Linked DNA regions of Homo sapiens: all the other regions are linked to region 1. Evidence: fine-mapped expression QTL. A gene starts in region 1. Each other region holds a variant in brackets. All regions are shown on one strand. Distances are between the middles of the regions.

Region 1 (4,089 bases):
ACATAATCTAATCTTTGTTTTAAAGGACAGTCGGCTGTGTGTAGGTGTTGGGGAGGGAGGAGGCGGAGAGTGGGAGGTAGAAAGATCAGGTAGGAGATAATTATTGAGAGATGATGCCTTAGACCAGGACATTAGCAGTGGGGAGGGGAGTGAGACGGAGTGGACATTTTCACCATATATTTGTGAAAACAGAGTCAACAGAATTTGCTGACGAATGTGATGCTGAGTGTACAACAGAGAAGGTTCAGACATAGGGAAGTTCTGAGGACAAGGATTTTTTTCTTTTATTCAATGTCATATATCTACCACCTAGACAGTGCCTGGTATCAATAAATATTCCTTGAATAAATGAAAAGGGTAACTGATTTGTATTAAACCCATTTTGAACTTAGTAAATAGCAGTTAAAACATCTACAGTCAAATGAAGTACTGTAGCAACCATAATTTCAGCAATTAAGCAGTGAAAGATCTTCCAATCCTTTCCTCCACAAAGATAGAAGTTAATTTTGCTGCATCCCTGGACACCCCGTTGCCAACGACCCAGCATTCCGTTGGTAAGTGAGGCTGGAGGTTGGAGTGGGAGAAATTTCGTGGAAGCTAAGTTCGCAAAGCAGGTACGTTTTTTTTTTTTTTTTAAACGGTTATTTGGGATGAGGAGTACAACGGAACCTAATGTTCCCTCATGCCACCTACAGCACTGCTACTGTTCCCATATCCTTCAACTGGGCATGAAGGCAGCTTCCCACTCACTCTGACAGTGGTGCACCCTGTACCCCCACCCCTCTCTTCAATACCCCAGGGCTAAACGGCCCGAAGCTCCTCTCTACCGGCTGGTGCGCATTCTGGGCCAGGGCGAGCCAAAAGGCAGAAGGGCCTTCGTGCTGCAGTGTCTGGTGAAGACTCAGGCTTAGCCTGGAAGAAGTTTCCAGGCCAACGTGAAGTTTTCCTGTCTTGGGTACATGCGAGCCCCACGCGTCTGCGAGTTTGGGTTAGTGTGTCAACAGGGTCAGTCCCCGTATCTACTTTGCGAAAGCTTCGAGGCGAGCGTGAAGTCAAGGGCTGCGGTGGATGGGGGTAAAAGGCCTCCTCGTCCCACTGCCTGCACCGTCTTGGGGTAACCCCTAACCCCCAGCCGGCGTTTCCCTTTAATGCGCGTGCCCGGCAAGGTCCTCGCGTCCCCTCCCCTCAAGCCACCCCGTCAGCCTCGGTTTCCCCCACTTCTCCCCGTCCTTGTCGTTCCTTCCCCGTGGGACGCCCCTCGCTCACCCCCGTCAGAGCCCAGTCTGCGCGCGGGACCCAGCTGTCACTTTACTTTTCCTCGCCGCCTCCCCACCCCCTCTCCCGACCGGCGGGGCAGCCCGCCCGGGCGCGCTCCCGCCCCCGCCCCCTCGCGGCCGCGCGCCGGAGGAGGAGGGGCGGGGGGAGGAGGGAGGCGCGCGGCGCCGCATGGCCGACGTGGGGCTCGCGCTCTCGCGGTCTCTCCCGGGCGGGCGCGCAGGCACGCGCACTCGCGGGTGCGCGCGCGGACGGCCGGGCGGCGGCGGCTCCCGGAGGTGGTGGCTTCACTTTCCAGGACTCAGGGGCAGCCACAGCGACAGCCGCGGGCAGCAGCCTCAGGAGCCGGAGCTGGAACGGCCGGGGGCGGCGGCAGCGGCGGCGCTGAGGGTGAGTCCGGGCGGGCGCGAGCGCGGCGGGGACAGGCGTGGTCGGGTGCGTGGTGCGTGGGTCCGGCTTTCGGTGACTAGACGGTCCGCAGGGGACATCCCGTCCCTGGGGCCTCCCCAGTCTCCCTCCCCCTCGCGCCTGGGCAGCTCTCTCCCAGGGCTTCGGCTCGAGCCTGCGACCTGCACGGACACCCCCCCCTCAGGTATTCGCTCGGGCCGCGCCGGTGCCTCCCCTCCTCGGGCGTCCTCCCTCTCGCTGACGTCCTCCTCACTCCCCCGACCTCCCCTCCGCGTCGCAGGTCTCTGCTTACACCGCTCGTGCCCTAGTTCCCTCCTTCCTCGCTCCCCGTGCCCGGTTCCCTACGCCCCCTCCCGCGAGCCTCCTGCCCCCGTTTCTCGCCCTTTCTACCCCTCCCCCTTCTTCCCATCCCCCCCTTCTGCCTCTTCTCTCCCTGTCCTCCTTCTACCCCCTTCCGTTCTCAGTTCCCCATCCTTCTCAACCCTCCCAGCGCTTTCCTTCTCCTAGCCGCATCCTGGAACTAAGTCTTTTCAAAAGTACAGGATAAATGTCACGGTGGAAAGTGCCCGGCTTGATCTTTTGCTATTTTCCCTAATTGCATAATTGCTGCACATGGTGTGTCTCCTGGCGAGTGCCGGGTTTGGCTCCTTCGCCGCCGCACCCCGGTGGCCCGCCCGGAGAAGACCTTGTGGGGTATATTTGTGTGTGTCCTGGTGAGGGGTGTGTGTTGTATTGGTCTTTTGTGATGCCTGGCGCTTGTCACAGTTTGGAACCGAAGCCCATTTTTCTCTGGTCTCTTCTCTGCAGCCCCCACTGGCCTGGTTTGAAACTGGATTCCCTCTGTCCTCTCCCCCTTCCCGCCCACCCCACTTCTCCCCCTCTTTTCTCCGATCTCTCTCATAATGTTTTGATCTTTTTGCCCTTTACCATTTCTAATGAAGATAAAGCGTGGCTTCTTGTGGCTTTTTTCCCCCACGACCAACCAGAAATGTCCAATCCATCTTCCCTTAAGGAAATTAAGGCTGCTTTAGAAAGACATCATCCTGTGCTCGGTGGCTGTTAGACCCATTTGCATGTTTTCAAGATTCATCGTTTTGTATTGTGTATTCTTGAGAGTCTACTAAAATATTTTTATTTAAAAGTACGAAAGGAAGTGCTAGGGTTTACCCTCAAAGTATCTCGCGGTTCTAAAGGATTTTACGCTCTTCTTAGTTTTTAATCCCTGATTTCTTTAAAAAGTATGTTTCTAGATATGTGATAATTCAGTCTGGACTTTGTGAATCTAAATATTTGCCTTTACTACGGCAATTTGGATGCTCCTTGGCTCTTTGGAATTCTGTATGTGGGCTGACGCTGAAATAGAGTGTTTTCATATAATGCCATACCCCATTCTCTTTCCCCTGCAGCACCTTTTACCCCCAAATCAGGTGTTCCACTGTTATTTTCTGCATAAATGTCTTTGCAGTTAAATTTAAAGCTGGATATTGCTGTGTGCATATACTATATATTTATTTTACATTTTAGAAAAGTTTAGAAACATGAGTAGGAAGACAGCAAGACATATATGACAGAATTAAACGCTTTCCTGTTATAAAAGCTTAAATGAACACTTGGTTTTGCAGTTTTATACTAGTAGATACTGTTATAAGGCTTACCTGGGTAGTAGGCTGGATTTATGGAATGACTATAGTTGCCTTTATGTAGTCAGTAATATTTCAAGCCAAATCATTTCATTTTTATGGAACATGTGAGTTTCATTCACTGTATGTTGCTAATTTCCAGGACTGTAATTACAACATAGGGTACATAGCTAATACAAGCTTAGACAGTTTGTGTTGAAGAAGTAACAATATGTAAGCCTCTTAATATAGTTTTAGGAAGGACTACTTATTTTATGGTTAAAAATTAAATTTTACTTTGAGTTATGAAGTAAGCGTATTTATCTCTCTCAATATCTTTGAAAGTATCATTGGAGAGTAGCTGTTTGTTTATAACCCTGGGATTTAAGTTTATCTTCCCTGTAGATGAGATAATCGGATCAGATTAGCTATTTAGGAATTAATTTTAAAATGCTAATTTAGAAGATAATGTTTAAAGGATTTTAATTCAGGAATTTTTATTCATTTGTACTTCAGAGAGACAAGACATCAAGTTTACACTTACGACTAATTAAATTGATTCATAGACTACTTTTTCTTCATAAAAATTCGTTGCACCTGAGTGGTACAATAATTTTTTTCTATACTTTTTCTGTAATCAAGCATTCAAAAAACAAACCCAGGAGAAATTCCTTTTATTATTGATATTTGAAAAAGAGATGTGAAAACTTTATTTCTAAAAGTTCCTATAGTGGTTATCAATGGCCTCAGATGGACTTATCATTTGTAGGTTAACATTTGGATGAAA
Region 2 (4,089 bases), 95 kb before region 1:
TCCCTGCAGGGAACCCATTCCTCCAGGGCAGATCCTACTTTCCACTCCTTTGATGTCAGTCAGGATTAGCCAGTGACTTCAAGCTGAAGCCTTAAGAGCCAGTATTTGCTTCACGATAATCTCTTTACCCAGGCATCAGCCAGCAATGTTCCAGATAGGAGCTGCTAGGTCAGCCTGGTCCTAAAGAGATCATCAAGGACAGCCACAGCTCACCCACTATAGGCCTGTAGCATAAGCATGAAATAAACCCTGGTTGTAAATCACTGAGATATGGGGGTAATTTGTTACTTAAGAATAACAGCCTAAGCTGACAGTTAGAATCAGACTGATAGAATTTAATTCTCAACTGAGACTCAAAGAAGTTATGTTTTCCATGCTTAAGGGCACCCAAAAAAATAAGCTGATATTCTTTCCCCCTTCCTGGACTGTCTGTGATGTTACCTTTTGGGCCTTCATTTCCTCATCTATATATTGAAAGAGTTGGAATAAATAATCTCTAAAGTTCCTTCCACCCCTAACATTCTATATTCATCTGATTCCTCCTTTCATAGACTCTAGCTTTGCAAAAATTGCTTGGGTAACATGTGCTACTGTTAGTAGTTATATTAGATATATTCTCTTGGACAAGATCCAAAATATTTGCATATTATAAAAAATTCCACAACTATTACAGCAAAGTTCTAGAGCATACTGATTTGCACTGTTTGATACTTTACTTTGTAAATATGTTACTCAGTTTTTTAACATATTTGCATACCATATTTCTGATTAAATTGCAGGATCCTTTGTAAGAAAAAGGTTTTTTCTTTCTTTTACCTTATTTCTTACCATGCCTTAGCATGTTTTAATAGGTGCTTAATGAATGTGCCTCTTCACCAATCAATCTTTTAATTAAAAAATAGAAAACAGGCCACAGTGGCTCATGCCTGTAATCCCAGCATTTTGGGAGGCTGAGGCGGGTGGATCACCTGAGGTTGGGGGTTCGAGATCAGCCTGACCAACATGGAGAAACCCTGTCTCTACTAAAAATACAAAATTAGCCAGGCTTGGTGGCGCACGCCTGTAACCCCAGCTACTCGGGAGGCTGAGGCAGGAGAATCACTTAAACTCGGGAGGAGGAGGTTGCAGTGAGCCAAGATCGTGTCATTGCACTCCAGCCTGGGCAACAAGTGTGAAATTCCATCTCAAAAAAAAAAAATAGAAAACATTTTTGACAAAAGAATAAAACATTGATTGTAAAGATTTTAAAGATGGCAATAAATTTATTTGATATTCCTATTAAGAGGTGGGGTCTAATTCCCCTCTTGTTGAATCTGGGCTGACCTTAGTGACTCACTTGCAAGCAAGAGAATGCAACAAAAGTGATGTTGCATGATTTCTGAGACTAGGTCAGAAAGAATCCTGCAGCTGCCACCTTGTTCATTGGAACACTCACTCTTGGAGCCCAAATATAAAAAGTGCAACTATCCTAACCCACCATGCTATGAGGAAGCCCAAGCCACAGAAGGAGGCCACATGCCAGGCACTCCAGTGGACAGTTCCAGTGGAGCCTGGTTTTCAGGTCATCCCAGCCTAAAAACCAGACACATGATTGAAGAAGCCTCTAGATGATTCTAGCGCTCAGCTATTAACATCACCCCCCACACCCCTATTGTTTGAGTCTTCCTAGCAGAGGTCTCAATCCCATAAAGCAGAGACAAGCAATCCTTTCTCTGCCCTGTATAAACCCCTGACCCATAATATCCATGAATATAATAAAGTGGCTGTTGTTTTACGCCACTAAATTTTGGGAGTGCTTATGCAGCAGTAGATAACTAGAGCATATGTTATCTGTAAAAGTCAGCCTAAGCCACAGTGTTAGCCCAGACAAACACAAAGAAGTGTGTGCAACCACATGTTTCCTGCTTTGTTTATTCTTATTAGGGTATAACAACCTACTGGGGTAAATACCTCCCTAGCAAGAGCAATCTGGAAGATAGGAGTATTAAAACATCAGGCAGAGATACAATCGAATTATTATCAAGCAATTGCGAC[C/A]TAAAAAGAGTAGGCACTGATTGAATCTCAGCACTTATTACTTCACCTTGCAATTGCAACATAACAAAAACACCAGTCACAGATGCAATCACAAAGACAAGTGGAATCAATACTGACTCTAAAATACATTACAGGCCATTTTTAAATAAATATGTAAAATCTGCTGTAAATTGATTCTAGCTCAGTGTAACAAACTGCTGTAACAAGTTTTACATACAAAGCCTAGAGAAAAGAACAGGGAGGAGCAACCTGAAGCATGCACAGCTTAGAGTGAAGATGTTCTTCCACTTAAACTTCTTGCTCCATGACATGTGGTTGTTCTTTACACTCAACAACAAATTTCACCTTATGGATCTCAAAAGCTCTGCTCCGGGAGAGGACCAACATGTTCAAACAATAACAGCTAGAGAGTTAAAAATAAAGACAAGTGCTCTTTAATCTCAATTCAGTTTCCTAAGAAATCTGTACAGAGGGAGCAATAAACAGTGTTAAGGTTTTTTTTGTTTGTTTGGGCTTGTTTTCAGAGCCAGGTATCATGTTAGTTTATGTGCACTTAACATAGGCTTAATGATATATCTGTGCAGTGTACTTCTCTAGGCACTATGGAGATCAAAAATATGAAAAGCATAGCCCTGGCCAGACATGGTGGCTCACGCCTTGTAATCCCAGCATTTTGGGAGGCCAAAGTGGGTGGATTGCTTGAGCCCAGGAGTTCAAGACCAGCCTGGGCAACATGACAAAACCACATCTCTACAGAAAATACAAAAAACTAGCTGGGTGTGGTGGTGCACGCTTGTAGTCCCAGTTACATGGGAGACTGAGGTGGGAGAATCACCTGAGCCCAGGAAGTCGAGGCTGTAGTGAGCTGTGATTGTACCACTGCACTCCAGCCTGGGTGACAGAATGAGACCCTGTCTCAAAACAATTAAAAAGACAAGAAAAGAAAAGCCTATTCCTTGCCCTCAAAGAGTTACTGTATTAGTGAGGGAGAGATAGGTAGGTCTAAAAGTATTGATTGTACAAAGTAGAAGGTGTTAAGAGCCGAAAGCAAGACCTATTTACTAAACAGAAATGTATATCAAAAAGCTTGGATTTAGGCTGGGCACAGTGGCTCACACCTGTAATACCAGCACTTTGGGAGGCTGAAGTGGGAGGCTCCCTTGAGACCAAGAGTTTGAGACCAGTCTGAACAACACAGCAAGATCCCCATAGCTATTTAAAAAAAAAAAAAAAAAAAACACTTGAATTTGACTTGGACGTTAAGTAATCTAAGTAATACCCTGATATTTTAAATCCATTACTATAAATTCATACATATATACCCCCACTTTCATGCTTCCCTTCTAAAATGGCAGCCTCCTTAGACAAAATAACTTTTGACTACATGTTTTCTTTAAAAAATCCTTCACTATGTCTTTCAAGTACGCTGCCACATAGCAGTCCTCAATATATATTTGTGGAATTAATGAATACAATGTATTTGATGTAAGGTCTGCCACTAGAGAGTAGCAGCTCAAGAGAATTTGGTTCTTAGTGTCCCAGGCTCTTTTTGCTTACATCTGTGGTGTCTGTTGCTTTTGCTCTCATCCCACTTTTAAAAGCTGCTGATATGGTTTTAATGAAACTTGAAGTATTACCTCAAAAATTTTGCATTTTGAGCTTTATCATGAATTTTGTGATAAAAAGGTTTAGTCTTGGCCAGGCGTGGTGGCTCACACCTGTAATCCCAGCACTTTGGGAGGCCGAGGTGGGCGGATCATGAGGTCAGGAGATCGAGACCATCCTGCCCAACATGATGAAATCGCATCTCTACTAAAAATACAAAAATTAGCTGTGTGTGGTGGCACGTGCCTGTAATCTCAGCTACTCAGGAGGCTGAGGCACGAGAATCGCTTGAACCCAGGAGGCAGAGGTTGCAGTGAGCCGAGATCGCGCCACTGCACCCCAGCCTGCCAACAGAGCAAGACTCCATCTCAAAAAAAAAAAAAAAAGAAGAAAGAAAAGAAAGAAAAAAAAAAAGGTTTGCTCCTCTGGGCAAGAAAATGGCCCTTCTCC
Region 3 (4,089 bases), 39 kb before region 1:
CCCCACATATTTAAACATAGCTTTATCTTATGACTCAGCAATTCCACTCCTAGGTGTATACCCAAGAGAAATGAAAGCAAATGCGCATACAAACACCTGTACACAAAGGTTAAGCAGTGTTATTCACAATAGCCAAGAGGTATAAATAGTCCAAACCACCCGTCGACTGACAAATTTAGATAAGCAAATGTGGTACGGACACATAGCGAAATATTATCTGACCATAAAAAGGAGTGGAGTGCTGATAAACACTACAACATGGATAGACCTTGAAAACATTACGGTAAATGAAAGAAGCCAGACCCAAAAGACCACTTACTATATGATTCTGATATGAAATGTCCAGAATGGGGAAATAGAGACAGAAAGATTTGTGGTTGCTTAGAGCTGAAGGGAAAGGGGGACCTACAGGGTATGGGTTTTCTTTTGAGGGGATGAAACTGTTCCAAAGTTTACTGTGGTGATGATTGCACATATTTGTGAATATACTAAAAGTCACTGAATTATACACTGTAAATGGGTGAACTGTACAGTATGTAAACTGTATTTCAATAATGCCATTTTGACAAAATAATATTTAAAAGACAGGTTGGATTTCAACAAGTGTAATCTCAGGCTAGTACATATGAGGCTGGGGAGTTAATGTGACAATAGACATAGTGAGTTGCCTCACTTGTTTTACAAGTACGGCAGAGTCATGTGAGTCTCTAGAGGATGCTGTGGTGTGCAGCCCAGATTTCCCTTTCAGAACTAAACAATCTAGTTCCACAGCTACTGGGAGCACACCTGACAACAGCCCTCCACAGGAATTGCCCTCAGCAGCACAGGGCTACTCACCCAAGACCATGTCCCTCCCCAGCAAGAGCCTCCATCCAGTGACTGGTTGCTGTGAGTGTGTATAGAGGAACTGGACAGCCTTTTTTTTTTTTTTTTAAAGACAGAGTCTCGCTCTGTTGCCCAGGCTGTAGTGCAGTGGTGAGATCACAGCCTCCAGCTCCTAAGTTCAAGCTATCATCCTGCCTCAGCTTCCCATATAGCTGGACTACAGGTGAGTGCCACCACACCCAGCCAACTTTTTTGTACTTTTTTGTAGAGATGAGGTCTCATCCAGTCCGGCCTCAAACTTCTGGCCTCCAGGGATCCTCCCACCTCAGTCTCCCAAAACTCCCACAGGTGTGAGCCATCCTGCCCAGGTTCAGAATAGCTGTGAAAGGCCACTTATGCTTCAAAGCTCACCATGGGTTGTCTGAGGACTTTGCTGCGATCACACTGCAGCTTCACATCTCATCGTACCCACTCCTGGTTCCCTCTCCCGCTTCTTCCCAGAGTCTGCTTTCCATAGAATCCAATCTGCAACGTGGTGCATAGAAGATGGCGCATAAAAGGAACATAACTTTTAAACAGACTAGAAAATTAGATTTGGATTAAACTCTAGAGGACCTTGAATGCCATGTTAATGAATGTGATCTTCAATAGAATATAGGAAAGTAATCATTATAATTATATTTGGGTTAAGCAACCCAAGCAACCAGGTTAAAGAATTACCTAGAATGAGGCAAGATAAAGGACAGAAATACAAGTTAAAAAATCAATCCAAGAGTACAGGCAAAAGGACAAGTTAGTGGAGACCACAGACAGGACTATGGCAATGAGAATGAAGAGGAGGAAAGAAATTGGGAGACATCATAAGAGAATGAACTGGGTTTGATGAATGATGAGGTGAGAGATATTTTAATAGTAAGAAAGAAGATGAAAAAGACTACAAGTTTTCTAGTCTCAGAGTTGGCTAACAATAAGAAGAGTAGCACAGTGATAAGATGTATCAGTCAGGGGCCAGTAAAAAAACAAAAGCCACACCAGTTATTTTAATTGCCAAAAAAGAATATAATATAACCATATTTAGAGAACCACAAGGCAAAAAGGAACAATAAGGTACCATGGGCTGGGTACAATGGCTCACACCTGTAATCCCAGCACTTTGGGAAGCTGAGGTGGGAGGATCATTTGAGGACAGGAGTTTGAGACCAGCCTGGGCAACACAGTGAGACCCTTTTCTAGAAAAAAAATTAAAAATCTAGTAGGACATGATGGCATGCACCTGTAATCCTGGTTACTTGGAAGCCGAGGCAGAAGAATCACTTGAGCCCAGGAGGTCAAGGCCACAGTGAGCCATGATCATGACACTGTAAGACAAAGCAAGACCCTGTCTCTAATTAATAAATAAATAAACATGGTATCATGAAGTAAGCAATAGCAGGAGGCAGCTGCCATCCCTAGGACTGGGGGAACAAAAGGAAGAAACTATAATTATTAAAATATAGAAGTTTAGAGGGACCGAGTGTGGTAGCTCATGCCTATAATCCCAGCACTTCGGGAGGCCAAGGCAGGAGAATTACTTGAGGCCAGGAGTTTGTGAACAGCCTGGACAACATAGTGAGAACTGCTGTCTCCAAAATTTTCAAAAATTAGCTGAGCTTGGTGGCATATGCCTGTAGTCTAAGTTACCTGGGAGGCTGAGGCAGGAGGATCACTTGAGCCCAGGAGGT[G/C]GAAGCTTCAGTGAGCCATGATCCCATGACTACACTCCAGCCTGGGTGACTAAATGAGAACCTGCCTCTCAAAAAAAAAAAAAAAAAAAAAAAGGAAGGAGAAGTAGTAGAGTAGTAGTAGTTTGGTGGAGGAACCCCATAGATCTGGGGACTAGACCTTGAGAAGTAGGTGTTTTCAACTGCTGTTGCTGTTCCTGAGTCTGGTGGTGTCCCATGGGGCTGGAATCCAAGCCTTTGAGGAGGGCACATCGGCCAGTGATGCTGGTATTTGAAGGATGGGGATGGGAAGTACAATAAAGATAGCTTTGCAAGTGTTGGGAAAATTGCAAAATAGGAATTTACCTTTGCAACTAGAACAAAGTGCCTCTGCTGGAGTGAAAGGCACTGCAAGGGTGATGCAGGCAACAAAGAGGAAAAAGCAAGTCCCTTCTCTCTGCTCCAGCTTTATGGTCTCCTTCTGATGTCCCCATTGGCACAATCTCTGTTCCCTTGGGTTAGCTATTTAATGTCCTTAATCCTCAATTTCCTCATCTAGTAAGTGGAAATTCACATTAGTCCTACCTTATATATCATTTCATTGATACATGTAATGTGGCACATAAAGTGAGCTTTTAGTGAACACATTTCTCTAATTATTATTAAAATGGGAAACCTAGGAGGAGAGAAGGAAGTCAGTTATTTTACAGTTCGTTTTTACTCTTTGAAGGGGATGGGGGGCAGGGAAGAGTGAGTTTTCGGGGTCATGTTGAGTTTGAGTATCTTCTAGAATAGCTTTGTTTTATGTGGAAAGAGTTAAAGTGTAATTCTAGACTCAACCAAGAGGTTGATATAACTTTTTCTGAAAATAGCTATGCAGAAACATGAGCAGGGAAATAGGTATGCTCAGGGGTCAGGCGGAAGTTTATGAATCAGAAGACACTAAAGCTGTAGTCCTCAAATTCTAGTATGTATCAGAAGCACCTGGAGAGCTTGTTCAAATACAGATTTCAGGGTCCCACCCCTAGAATTTCTGATTCAGTAGGATGGTGTGGCTTGAAAAGCTGCATTTCCAACAAGCTCCCAGGTGATGCTGATTGCTACTAGTTCAAGCACCACCCTTTGAGCAGCACTGGTCCAGAAAGCTAAGGCCAGAGCTACAGTCATTGGTTAGTCTCCAGACTACATTTAAAAAGGAAGGGGAAGAAAATAATTGTTAAGAATCTACAATGCACCAAAAGTTTTGCATTCTTTAATTTAATGAGCTCAACAACCCTAGGAAGTAGGTGTTGTCATCCAATTTTTCAGATAAGTAAATTGCAACTCAGCAAGGTAAGAAAGTTGCCCAGAGCCACATGATTAGCAGGGTAGTAACACTGGGACTCAGATCCAGATCTGTCCAACTCAAAAGCCTATATTTTCTCCACTGTGTCATGCTGTCAACTTCTCTCGGTAAAGTCAGGAGGGTAATAGGAGGCTTACTGGCTAAGAAAGACCTACAGTTTACAATCAGATTTTAACTACCATCTAGATGGCAACAACTCCCAAATTTATCTTTCCAGGCCAG
Region 4 (4,089 bases), 46 kb after region 1:
ATATTAATGTAAAACTAGGTTGGTTTCATATTGTTCTGGTACTGTATTGTCTTATTTTTTATTATCTGATATCTGAATCAGAAAATAACCTAGTTACATATTATTTAGTCTCTGAGTGTATTTTTTTTTTTTTTTTGAGACGGAGTCTCGCTCTGTCACCAGGCTGGAGTGCAATGGCATGATCTCGGCTCACCAGAACCTCTGCCTCCCGCGTACAAGCGATTCTCCTGCCTCAGCCTCCTGAGTAGCTGGGATTACAGGTGCCCGCCACCAAGCCTGGCTAATTTTTGTATTTTCAGTAGGACGGGGTTTCTCCATATTGGTCAGGCTGGTCTCAAACTCTCAACCTCAGGTGATCTGTCTGCCTTGGCCTCCCAAAGTGCTGGGATTACAGGTGTGAGGTATTATTTTTTAAGTAGGAGTATTTGGACCTAAACAGGCAGAATTCTTCAACAAAGTACAATGAAAGGCATTTCTTTGACAGTAGCCTGAATTTGGAGGCTCATTTGCAAAGGCACTTTCCACTGCCACTCTACCCCAGAAATTGCTTATGAAATAATTCTGGCATTTACTCCTTCTTCCTCCCCTCCCCCTTTTATTAAAGAGACTAGCTTGTACAAAGTCATTTGCAAATTCATTTGTGGTTCTCCATTTTGATTCAGATAGCAACTCTAAAGACTGAGTTATAAAAGTCTTTAGACTTTGCAGTTTAAAAGAACGATAATATTACCATGTAAAAATTCTGATTAGCATAAAGCTTTAGAAAGTCCGTTGCGTATACCAAGCCAAGTGCATTTTTGTCTCCAATTCCCAATTCTAATCAATTTCGTCCTCATTTTTCACTATTGCAAAAGTGTAGATCATGATGCCCATCTTTTTTGTAGTCGAGTACATTTTTTCTTCCATCAAAAAAGCAATTAGTGTCCTGATGTACTTCAGCTTCACACATTTCTGTAGATGATTTGATCAGGTTGTTGTCTTCACGACAGACATCTGATTGTTTTTGAATGTGGGAACACTCCTTAGACAACATGGCCAGAATTAACCCACATCCTCACTGGTGTTCCACACCTTCTCATATGTAGGAGAGGAATTTCTCTGTCATTTCCCTGAGACTGCACCTTAATTCTCTACTATAATCCTTGACTGAAGGAAAAGTTAGGCGATCAGGTGGAATTTTTAAATTGTTCCACAAAAAACTGAGTTCTGCTAGCTAAGTGGAATGTTGAGAATTTAGAACATTCAGCACAATAAAATATAAACATTAAATTTGTATGGCATTAGAACCGCCTTTAGAATTTTTAGTGGAAGCGTTAGATCACATGCATTTCACTTTAGTTAATTTCTGTAAATTCAACTATGTATAGTCTTCTTTACGAAAAGGAGAGAACATACTTGAGAAATATAATTTAAGAGTGCAAGTGAGAGTCATTCAGCCATTCCTTTTATTCTGATCAGTGAATGTGTGTCCCTGAGTGAGAGATGGAAGAAGTCCTTTTAGTTCTTGATTGCATTTCATAGTGTGAATAGCTCCCTTCCCTGACAGTGATTTTTAGTCTTTCCTAAACTTAGTCAGCTACTTCATCTGTTATTCAGCCGAATGAACAGTGAGTGATCTGTTGCAGTGCTAGAGGAACATTGGCTGTTTTGGCCTTATTGAAGAATACTTGACCGACTGATTTAAGAGCTATTCAAAGGTAATTTTGAGTATGCAATTTTTGCCTTTTGCAACTACCTTAGGACCTTATTCTGGCCGGGTGCAGTGGCTCATGCCTGTAATTCTAGCACTTTGAGAGGCTGACGTGGGAGGATTGCTTGAGCCCAGGAGTTTGAGACCAGCCTGGGCAACATGGCGAAACCTTGTCTCTCCAAAAAATACAAAAATTAGCTGGGCATGGTGGCACACACCTGTAGTCCCAGCTACTTGGGAGGTTGAGGTAGGAGGATTGCTTTGAGCCTGGGAGGCGGAAGTTTCAGTGAGCCGAGATTGCACCACCACACCCCAGCCTGGGCAACAGAGCAAGACCCTGTCT[C/CA]AAAAAAAAAAAAAAGAACCTAATTCTGGAGTAAGATATGACTTTACCATAATTTGTGAATTAAGGATTAACAAGGTCAGCAGAGCTGAAGCCAAGTGAAAGCATTTGAGAACAAATGACTGAAAAATACTGGATATATGGTAAGATATGTGTAGAAAAAGAACTCTTTAAGCAATTTTCATTAAAAGCTTCTTAGTATGTTTTCCAGATACTAAAAATTTTGGTCACTGGAAACAATTGGGAAGCAAAGAGATTGATTCAGGATAAACGTAGTTAAATTAGCCAAGATTAGGGATTCCAGTGACCTTGAAAATAAATGTGTAGATTAAAATTCAGGTTATTTTAATTTGATGGCTAAAATAAAATGTGTGTATTAACTCAGATTTTTTTTTTTTTAAATTTTGAGATGGAGTCTTGCTCTTTCGCGCAGACTGGAGTGCAGTGGCATGATCTCGGCTCACTGCAAGCTCTGCTTTCTGGGTTCATGCCATTCTCCTGCCTCAGCCTCCCAAGTAGCTGGGACTACAGGCACCCGCCACCACACCTGGCTAATTTTTTTGTATTTTTAGTAGAGATGGGGTTTCACTGTGTTAGCTAGGATAGTCTCGATCTCCTGACCTCATGATCCGCCTGCCTCTGCCTCCCAAAGTGCTGGGACTACAGGCGTGAGCCACCGCATCCGGCCTAACAGAATTTTAAGAATACATATTCTTGAATGATTGCAGAGTAGGTGGTAAGTTATATGCCAGACACTGATCTAAGTGGTTTGCCTGTCTTACCCCTTTAATCTAGGAGGGTAGATAGATGCTGTTCTGGGAGCTTTATGGATGCTAGTTCTCAGTAACTCTGAGTAAGGACTGTTGTTACCACAACCTTGCAGGTGAGAAACTGCAATATAGTCACAATTAGAAACTTGCCAAAGTCACAGCCATTAAGTAGATAAGCCATGATTCAGATCAAACCACCTGGCTCCATTTCCTGTACTATTAACCTATCTTCTACGCTGGTCTTTAATTCTCTTTTACATTATTATTGTCTCATCTGTAAAGGTTCAAATGCCTACTCCAGTTCCTTGAAGTGGCTGCTTTGAGGTTTCTGAGACCAGGTCTATACTCAGTAAAATTTTTCTGAATTTGTATTAGAGGTTGTTTTATGAACATGAGATTGGAAAAATGGTGGCATGAACTCACTTCTAACTTCATATCAAACTAGATCACCAGAAAACTATTTAGTCCTATATTTTAGTATTGTTTCCTCATATTCTGTCAATTTTTGTTAGATGCATTTGTATGAAGAATATTTCTGCATCTGCGATGAAACTATTGAATGCATTGTCTCTTATGATACTCTGTTCCCTTTATAAGAATTAATGTGATAAATTATTCAAGAATTTAGTTTCAGAGAAAAGTTTCTTTCCTTATGATATGGCATACTTCCTTCTATCAGTCATTAAGAATTATATATTCTGTTGAGTTTTTCTGTTTGCTTTGGCTGCAAGAAAGCTTGGAGTTATATGTCACTTCAATTATAGTAACTTTATTAGCCTAGGCTTCTGATATGGGTAATTTCTTCTCAGTCCTCTGTGGCAGGAGTATTTATTTATTGGAGACAGAGTCGCACTCTGTCGCCCAGGCTGGCATGCACTAGCACCATTATAGCTCACTGCAACCTTGAATTCCTGGGCTCAAGTGATCCTCCTGCCTCAGCCTCCCAGGTAGCTGGGACTACAGGTGCATGCCATCATGCTTCTAATTAAAAAAAGATTATTTGTAAAGACAGGGTCTTGCTATGTTGCCCACGCTGGTCTCAAACTCCTGGGCTCAGTCCTCCCACCTCTGTCTCCCAAAGCACTGGGATTACTGTGCCTAGCCTGTGACAGGAGCTTTTAATTCATCGTGTGTGTATCAGCTTCAGGGAGCTGATGAACCCTTCTGAAATGATCAGTAAACTTGCTTGTGTGCAAGCTTGTGTGGGAATCTGGGGGAGCATCGTTAGCTTCTCTCAGATTTTCCATGACCTCCTCCCAACGCCCCCCTCAAAAAGATGAAGAACCGTT
Region 5 (4,089 bases), 54 kb before region 1:
CGAAGTTTCTGAAGTTTTAATAATCCAGGCATTTTCCTTTTTTTTTTTCCTATCAGTCCTAGGAGTTGGTAGGTGTTTCCCACAATTGCTACCTTCATGGAACTTTAAAGCTCATTTACTTTCAGGTTAACAACTTTATACCTAGTTTAAAATTCCTTCTACTATATTCTCTCTGTTCAAATAATTAACATGGCTTCTGTCTTCTGACTAAGAAAAATGGCTAGCATCCTAATAGATCTGTGGTTCTCAAGGCATGATCCAGGAACCAGCAGTGTAAGCATCACCTGGGAACTTGCTAGAAATACAAATTATCAAGCCCTGCATCAAACCTCTGAGTCAGAAATTGGAGGTGGTTCCAGCAATCTGAGCTTTATTTTTTTTTTCTGTTAAGACCATCATTTGGAAAAATCTGAGCTTTAACAAGACCTCCAGGTGATTCGGATACACACTAAAGTGTGAGAACCACTGTAATAGACTAAGTGAGGACAATGAGCCATAGTAGTGCCAATCCAATGAAATGGTCCAATCCCAAAATTGGAAAATTATGAGCTTCTCAAGGGTGCAAGCCCTCTTTTTTCATTTAAGCCCCTGTAAACCCAAAGTCTAATGTATTAATTCAAGAAACATTTTGAGTACTAAATGAGCTTGGCTTTCAATGATGGAAGGAAAGGAAGGAAAGAAAGGAAGGAAGGGAGGGAGAGAGGGAAGGAGGGAGGGAGAAAAGGAAGGGAGGGAGAGAGGGAGGGAGGGAGGGAGAAAAGGAAGGGAGGGAGGAAGGGAAAAAAGGGAGAGAAAGAAGGAAGGAAGGAAGGTAGCTAGGTAGGTTAGTTTGGTTACACTGGTCTGTGCTTTCAGAACTATCCCAGACTTTTAAAAGTCCGTATTTTCCTCATTTCTTCCAACAGTGGCCAAGAAACAATATGCACATGGGAGTGCACAAAAACGAGCCAAGTTTCTGTGGGTGGCAAAGGGAGGAAGAAAGCGGGAAAACAAAAAATGAATGTCTCTTTTGTTCTCATGTACTTTTCTTTCTTCACTTTCTTAGTTCCCTGCAATTCCCCCTCTTGTGATCTGCTTTTTCCTGACACATAGAGAATCACACTTAAACAGACATGAATTCTACACTCCCAGGAGTGTGCATGTCTGTGCACAGGCACACACACCGCCGAACACCCAAAGTAACTTCTCTTCCCACACTTTTCCCATCAGCCTTCTGACCCAAGAGAGCAACGGGCCTCACTCTATAGTCAGCTGTCCCTCTCTGCAGCTTCTTTTTCCTAGTGGATACTTTCTATTGCTTACCACTTACAAAGTCAAGGTTCTGTTAAGACAATGCAGATTGGCTTCAGGTATATTACCGGTCAGATAAAATCCTATGTTTTACCCTCTAATTTGGAATTCACTCTCTTTCCTTCCAAAATCTACATACCAAGTAGAAAACAGGTGACTAGAAAGAAAATAGCCACCATTTATTGAGCACTTACTATATGCAGGGCTATATATTAAAAGCTTTATAAGATTACCATATCTTTGGTTAAGTTTACTCTTAGGAATTTTTTTGAGTACTATAAGTGAGATTGTATTCTTAATTTCTTTTTCAGATCGATTGTTGTTAGTGTATAGAAGTGCTACTGATTTTTGTATTTTTTTTAAGAGACAGAAGTCTTGCTATGCTACCCAGCCTGCTCTCAAACTCCTGGGTTCAAGCGATCCTCCCACATCAGCCTCCCTAGTAGCTGAGACTACAGGCACACGCCACCATGCCCAGCTT[G/T]TATGTTGACTTTATATCCTTCAAATTTACTAACTTCATCTATCAGTTCTAAGAGTTTTCTGGTAGAGTCTTTAGGTTTTTCTAAATACAATCCAACAATAATACTCCTTGGAATTTACCTAAGCAAATTGAAAACTTATGTCTACACAAAAACCTGCACAAAGATACTTATAGCAGCTTTATTCATAATTACCAAACCTTGGAAGCAACCAAGATGTCCTTCAGAAGATGAATGGATAAATAAACTGTGGTATATCCAAACAATGGAATATTGTTCAGTGCTGAGAAAGAGATTGGCTTTTGAGCCTTGAAATGACATGGAAGAAACTTAAATGTATATTAAGTGAAAGAAGTCAATCTGAAAGGGCTACATACAGTTTGATTCCAACTATATGACATTCTGAAAAAGGTGCAAGTATGGACACAGTAAAATGGTTGCCATACTTGGGAGTGAGAGGGATGAATAGGCAGAGAGCAGAGAATGTTTAGGGTAGTGAAACTACTCTGTATGATACTATAATGTTGGACACATGTCTCTACACATTTGTCAAAACCCATAGAATGTACAGCACCAAGAGTGAACTCTAATGTAAACTACGGACTTTGGGCAATGGTGATGTTTCAATGTAGGTTTATCAATTGTACCAAATGGTGCAGAACATCGATAGTGGGAGAGGTTGTGTGTGCGTGTGTGCAGTGGGACAGTGCATATATAGGAAGCATGTGCATCCCACTTATCTTTGCTGTGAACCTAAAACTGCCCTAAAAATAAGATTTTTAATTTTTAAAAAATTTAACTCTATGAAGTAAGCAAAATTGTATCAATTTTAAAATATGAAGAAATAGAGAATGAAAGAGATTGAGTAATTTACCTAAGATACAACTTAGGTAAATTGTAAGGAAATTGTAAAGGTAGGTTGTAAGGAAAAAGGATTCAACCTTCAGCAGTCATTTCCAGAATTTGCACTCTTAACTACCACAGAAGAAGAAATCTCAGAATTATAGAGTATTGAAGGTATAATTATAGAGTATTGAAGTATAAGATACCTTCATAAGATTGAAGGTATCTTAAACATTATCTAGACCGGTGGCTTTCAACCTTGGGTGCACATTAGCATTGAGGGTAGTATTTTTAAGATCCAGAAGACCAGGTCACAACATGGACCAATTAAATAATAATCTCGGGAGATGTGACCCACATGTGTGTATTTATTGAAGCATCATGGTGATTCCGATGTAGAGGAAATGTTGAGATTCACAGATTCAAAGAATAACGAAAGGCTTCCACCCACCGTGGGGCAAAAGTGCAATGCATTTTGGTTCTACTTCAAAGAATTAGTTTTTAAATCATACATGTCCAAGATTGATAGGAAGAGGTATAATTGTTTTCCTTTGACTTCTTCTTTTTTTTTTTTTTTTTTTTTTTTAGAGATGGGGCCTCACTATGTTGCCCAGGCTGGTCCTGAACTCCTGGGCTCAAGAAAACCTCCTGCCTCAGCCTCCAAAATTGCTGAGATTACACCACACACAGCCTCCTTTGAATTTTTAAGGTTTGGTGTGGTACCCAGAAAAGAGCAGGGTTAGTGGTCATATAATCTAGAATCACCTCTGACACTTATTAACCATAATCTTGGAACACTTAACCTCTCTAGAGCCTCAATTTCCTTATCAGCAAAACTAGACTACAAATAGTCCATGTATACCTTATTGACTTCCCAGTAGTTCTAAAAATCAAAGAAGACAGTGTATATTTTCAAATTTTCTTTTTCACCTGAGGAATAACACCGTGTTGGTTTTTAGTAGGTAGTGAACTTAAAGGGCACACGGTACAGGGTCTGAATCTCATTCTTGATATTCATTGACTGTTCTCAGAGAAGTTACAGAAACTTTGTGAAAGAGTACACCCATCGACAATATACACAAAGCAAAATCAATAATTTCTTGATTCTTTGGGAATTAAACACTTTGCACAGTAAATGGCACCTAAAAGTTATTCAAAAGTGTGATGTTCCCTTCCCACAGCCACTTAAATGTCTTATTTATTCCATCAGATATTTTAAATTAAAGCATACCAGGAAAAATTAATGATTACCTAACATCATTATTCACTTTGATTAAGAGTGGGTTGTCCAAAAAGAGTCTTGAACAAATACAAAGGCATCCCTTGTTCTTGGTTAGGACATCAATATGCCAGTTCTAAATGAACTTATCAATTTAATGAGAGGTCAGTAAAATGCCAGGAAGTTATTTTATTGAGCTAAACAAATTGATCCTAAAATTCACATGGGAGTTAAAAAAAAAAACATGTAAAAATAGGC
Region 6 (4,089 bases), 33 kb after region 1:
CATTTAACATTAAATATTTTCTAAGGGCCAATATGTGATCAGCACTGTGCTGTATACTGGGGATGCAATTATGAACAAGATGGAAGGCATCTCCAGCCTTTGTAGAGCTTATGTTTTAGCTGTGAAGACAGACTGGAACTTGTTTAAAAACAAAACAAAACAGAAAAATTGCCTTTATGATGAGCTGGGGAAGTAAACAGACATCATAATTGCTATGAAGAAAACCAGGGATGAGTTTTAGTGTGGGGTTCTAGTTTTATTTTGGGTTGAGAAAGCTTTTCTAAGGAGGTGAAATCTTAATTGAGAGCAAAAAGTTGTTAGGTACATAAGGTGTGGGGGACCATTAGTATTACAAACTGCATGTGCTGAAGCTCGAAAGCAGATAGCTCTGATGTTCAGGGAGCTAGCTGGAAGAAGTCTGGTGTGGCTGGATTGAGGGGGAGTGGGGAGTGGGCAGGGGAATGCTGTTGTACAAGATGAGGTGGCAGAATGAGGTTGTGGCCAAATCAAGCAGAGTTTGGCTTTTATTAAGATCAGTCTGGTTGCTAGATTGGAGGTGGGTAAAAGAGTAGATGCTGACAGTCATCAGGTGAGAGAGGATGGTGTTATAGATTATGGCAGTAGCAGTGGAGATAGAAAGAGGGTCATTTGAAGTATGTTTTTTGAAGGCAGGTGGACAGGATTTGCTGATGGGTAAATGGCAGAGTTAGGGGGACTGTTAGAACAGAGAAAGAAATCATGGGGTTGGGTTTGAGTCTGTTGGGGAAATGGTGGTGCCTGTTTTGAGATGGGGAAGATTTCTGGGAGATAAGTGGTTTGATGGACAGGATCAAGAGTTCTGTTTTGGATGTGTTAATTCTGAAATGTCTGAGACATCCAAATGGAGATGTCAAGTAGGCAGTTGAACATGAGTTTGGAGCTCAGTGGAGAGCTGGAAATATCAATTTGAATTGTCATCAAAGAAATATTTAAATCTGTAGGAAATGATGAATTTGTGTGTGGAAAGAATATAGACAGACAGTAATACTCAAAACCAAGCCCTCGTAACATTCAGAAATGGGTGAACTAGCAGCTAGCAGAGGAGTCCTAAGGAGTTTGCCATCTAGGGGGTAGGAGGAAAACCAGGAGAGAGGTTTCCATGAAGTTGAGAGAAAAAGAGAGTCCCCTGTTCTTAGTGAGTACATCTAAAATTAATAATTAATGAAATTTTCAAGTGAATACGAAAGTAGAATAAAGTTGTAATTACTTTCTTCACCGGGAAAGTAATAAGTAAATAAAGACTATTTAGTGGCATTGAGATTTCAAGAGTAATTTCTTCAGTAATTTTGCAAGATTATTCATATTACCTACTCAACCAGACTCCATAATTGGGCTCAGGAGGGAAGGCTTTCCCTTAGAGAAGCAGAGTTCTGTTCGTCTGAATGTTGTCCAGTCAGGCTTTGGGACTTAAAAATGCTTTTGAGGATTCTTAGGTCCTTTTTTTTTTTTTTTTGGCCTGTGGACTGAACATAGCTGTTCAGTGTGTATCATTATTTATTGCCTTTCTCTTACTATAGATTATTTCTCACAGGAGAAGAAGTTATTGCTGGTAGCATGTCAGTTTACATGTGTCTAGCTCCCATCTCTGGAACACATAATTAAGTGTGGTCGACATATATTCTTCTTCATTTTTGCCGTTGAGAAAGCTGTCAGAAATGTTACATCTGGAGAACAGGAAAGACTACCCTCAAAGCCAGCGTTGGCCTAAGTGTACTCTTAAACATTTCCTGTGGATGTGTGGACCGCCTGTCTCTCTATCTCTTCATGACTTCTGCCTGTGTCTTGTGTGTGCAGAGGCCAAATAGTAGTAGCAGAGATGGAAAACCTTCTCCTACACATGTGCACCAGCATGGTCCTTTGTCTCTCTCTTTCATTTGCTCTTCAAGGCTTCGCTCAAATACTGCTTCCATTCTGTAATTTTCTCTTCCCAGCGCACCCGTGGGACCTGTTACATTGAGTTAGAGGCAGTATTACACGGTGGTTTCTTTTGGAGAGACTGGCTAGACTACGTATACATAGCCTCTTGGTTAGTTACATACCTTCTCAGTGCCTCAGTTCCTTCATCTGTAAAACCACATGGGGTTGTGTGAGGATTATATGAGTTAATACATGTAAAGCACTCAGAGTAGTGCCTGGCATATAAGGGCTCAAAAATTGTTAGTTGTTGATGCTGTTGTTGCTGTTTATAAGGCTTGCGTGCATTTCTTTTCTTCATTTGTTTTGGGAATGGTGAAGGCATATAATGTATTATTCATTATCTTCTTAATATGTTTCATGTAATAGACAAATATTTTTATGTAGTTACTAAGGCAGATAACTTCTGCATGTCTTATTTTTCTCTAAAATGGTAAGCATACATATA[A/C]GTATCTTGTTACTTGTGTGTGACCCTAGATTGCTTGGTTGTCAGTATCTCTTAATAAAGATTTTCCCTTTCATCTGTTTGTAGAAGCCTCATCAGCTGGGCTGGTATTAGTAAAAGGAAGATGACTAGAAAATTCACTTGGAGATCACATGGACTCTTTTATTATTAAATTAAATAATTCATTTTTCATGTATACAACACTCATTAATTGGGGTTGTGTTTATTGGTGAAAACATTTTTTTCTTAAAATGAAATCTTTAATTTTTTTACATTAATTATACTTAGTATGAGGCACTTTTGCTTCATTCTTACAGGTAGGCGAATTGTAGAGGTCTTACGTCTTTGCTGGGCCTGCCACCATCAATAGTTTAGGAGAATAATAGCTTTTGAAATGTATAAGGCCTTACTTAAACCAAAAAATATGCTTTACAATGCAATTTCTAACAGGGTCTTAATTCATTTGTTAATATTTCTTCAGAACGTGGGCTTAAATTTTGTTTTAAAGTCTTATACAAACTCTTGAGGGGAAATTTTTTTTTAGTGTTTTCCGCTTTAGTTTGTCTTTTTTGATGATGCAGCTCAACAACCATAAATACATTCAGGACTCACAGGTTGACATTTTAATCATTCCATCCACAAGTACTCAGAACTGTGGGGACCTGGAATAAATATGAGATATGGCCTCTTGACTTTAGTTTATAATCTTTATTGTTGAAAAAAGCCTGGTTCCCTTGAAATAGTTAGAGAAAAATATTGGAAAGCATATAGAAGGAAGTGTGGTATAGTAGTAAGATAATTCATCTAGTAGTCTTGTTCATTTATTCACTAAAAGCCTGCTGAGCACTTTCATCTCCTTAGTGTCAAAACCTGAGTTTTGTCACAAGATCCGCCACTGTGAAATTGAGCAAGTACCATTCCTTTACCAGATTTACTCCACCTGCCTTGTAGGATCATACATGATCATGTATATGAAAGCTTCTAGAACACTAAAGCATTGTGCAAATGTAAAGAGTTATATAATGTTACATTGTTCGGGAGAGGCCATGCCTGTGGTAGCAGTTAAAAGGAACAAAACTTTGAGAGTTGAACTAGTTAGGTTGGGTGGGATTTTCCCCTTAAGAAACCATCATCAGTAAAGGCTGTTTTTTAAAAGCTAGTATATAGGATTAATAAAGTACAGGTTGAGTATCTCTTACCTGAGATGCTTGGGACCAAAAGCCTTTTGGATTTCAGAATTTGAATTTTGGAATATTTGCATATTCATAATGAGCGATCTTCAGGATGTGGCCTAAGTCTAAACATGAAATGCATTTATGTTTCTTACACACCTTATACACATAGCCTGAAGGTAGTTTTATTTCTCCCATGGGGACGCTGAATAAACTGTGTATTGTGTGCCTGCGATCTGACTGGGACCTGCCACATGGGGTTAGGTGTGGAGTTTCCCACTTGTGGCATCATGTCAGTGCTGAAAGTTTTTGATTTTGGAGCATTTCAGATTTCAGCTTTTCAGATTAGGAATGTTCAACCTCTAGCCGGAGAAAGAAGATAGTTTTCTATAAGATGGAAAATTTATCCAGTCATGCCTTTTTGGAACATGCGTGAATTTGTTGAGTAACTGAAATGTATACCTTCAGGTTCCTAAATTTAATTTATGTGAGATAAAATTTGTTTCTAAGTAGTTTTAT

Evidence for each region.
Region 2: its variant is fine-mapped to the expression of UBE2E2 in sun-exposed skin (GTEx, PIP above 0.99). The same link has a PIP of 0.9 or more in unexposed skin.
Region 3: its variant is fine-mapped to the expression of UBE2E2 in monocytes after LPS (Quach 2016, PIP 0.95).
Region 4: its variant is fine-mapped to the expression of UBE2E2 in monocytes after LPS (Quach 2016, PIP 0.95).
Region 5: its variant is fine-mapped to the expression of UBE2E2 in monocytes (Quach 2016, PIP 0.95).
Region 6: its variant is fine-mapped to the expression of UBE2E2 in whole blood (INTERVAL, PIP above 0.99).

What each region holds. Positions count from the first base shown.
Region 1 is chr3:23,201,598-23,205,686 of GRCh38, forward strand. It overlaps UBE2E2 (ubiquitin conjugating enzyme E2 E2), which reads left to right and starts at 1,730. Exons shown (of 6, transcript NM_152653.4): 1 at 1,730-1,867. UBE2E2-DT (UBE2E2 divergent transcript) reads right to left here and starts at 1,396. Exons shown (of 2, transcript NR_136176.1): 1 at 1,267-1,396. RefSeq lists enhancers at 403-1,378, 791-850 and a silencer at 1,201-1,890.
Region 2 is chr3:23,106,783-23,110,871 of GRCh38, forward strand. No RefSeq gene overlaps it. Among named protein-coding and RNA genes, the nearest start is that of UBE2E2-DT, 94 kb to the right of the region's middle. The variant C/A (reference allele first, on the strand shown) is at 2,035.
Region 3 is chr3:23,162,322-23,166,410 of GRCh38, forward strand. No RefSeq gene overlaps it. Among named protein-coding and RNA genes, the nearest start is that of UBE2E2-DT, 39 kb to the right of the region's middle. RefSeq lists an enhancer at 1-17. The variant G/C (reference allele first, on the strand shown) is at 2,547.
Region 4 is chr3:23,247,238-23,251,326 of GRCh38, forward strand. All of the region lies in intron 3 of UBE2E2 (ubiquitin conjugating enzyme E2 E2), which reads left to right. Among named protein-coding and RNA genes, the nearest start is that of UBE2E2, 46 kb to the left of the region's middle. The variant C/CA (reference allele first, on the strand shown) is at 2,034.
Region 5 is chr3:23,147,836-23,151,924 of GRCh38, forward strand. No RefSeq gene overlaps it. Among named protein-coding and RNA genes, the nearest start is that of UBE2E2-DT, 53 kb to the right of the region's middle. The variant G/T (reference allele first, on the strand shown) is at 1,772.
Region 6 is chr3:23,235,008-23,239,096 of GRCh38, forward strand. All of the region lies in intron 3 of UBE2E2 (ubiquitin conjugating enzyme E2 E2), which reads left to right. Among named protein-coding and RNA genes, the nearest start is that of UBE2E2, 34 kb to the left of the region's middle. The variant A/C (reference allele first, on the strand shown) is at 2,402.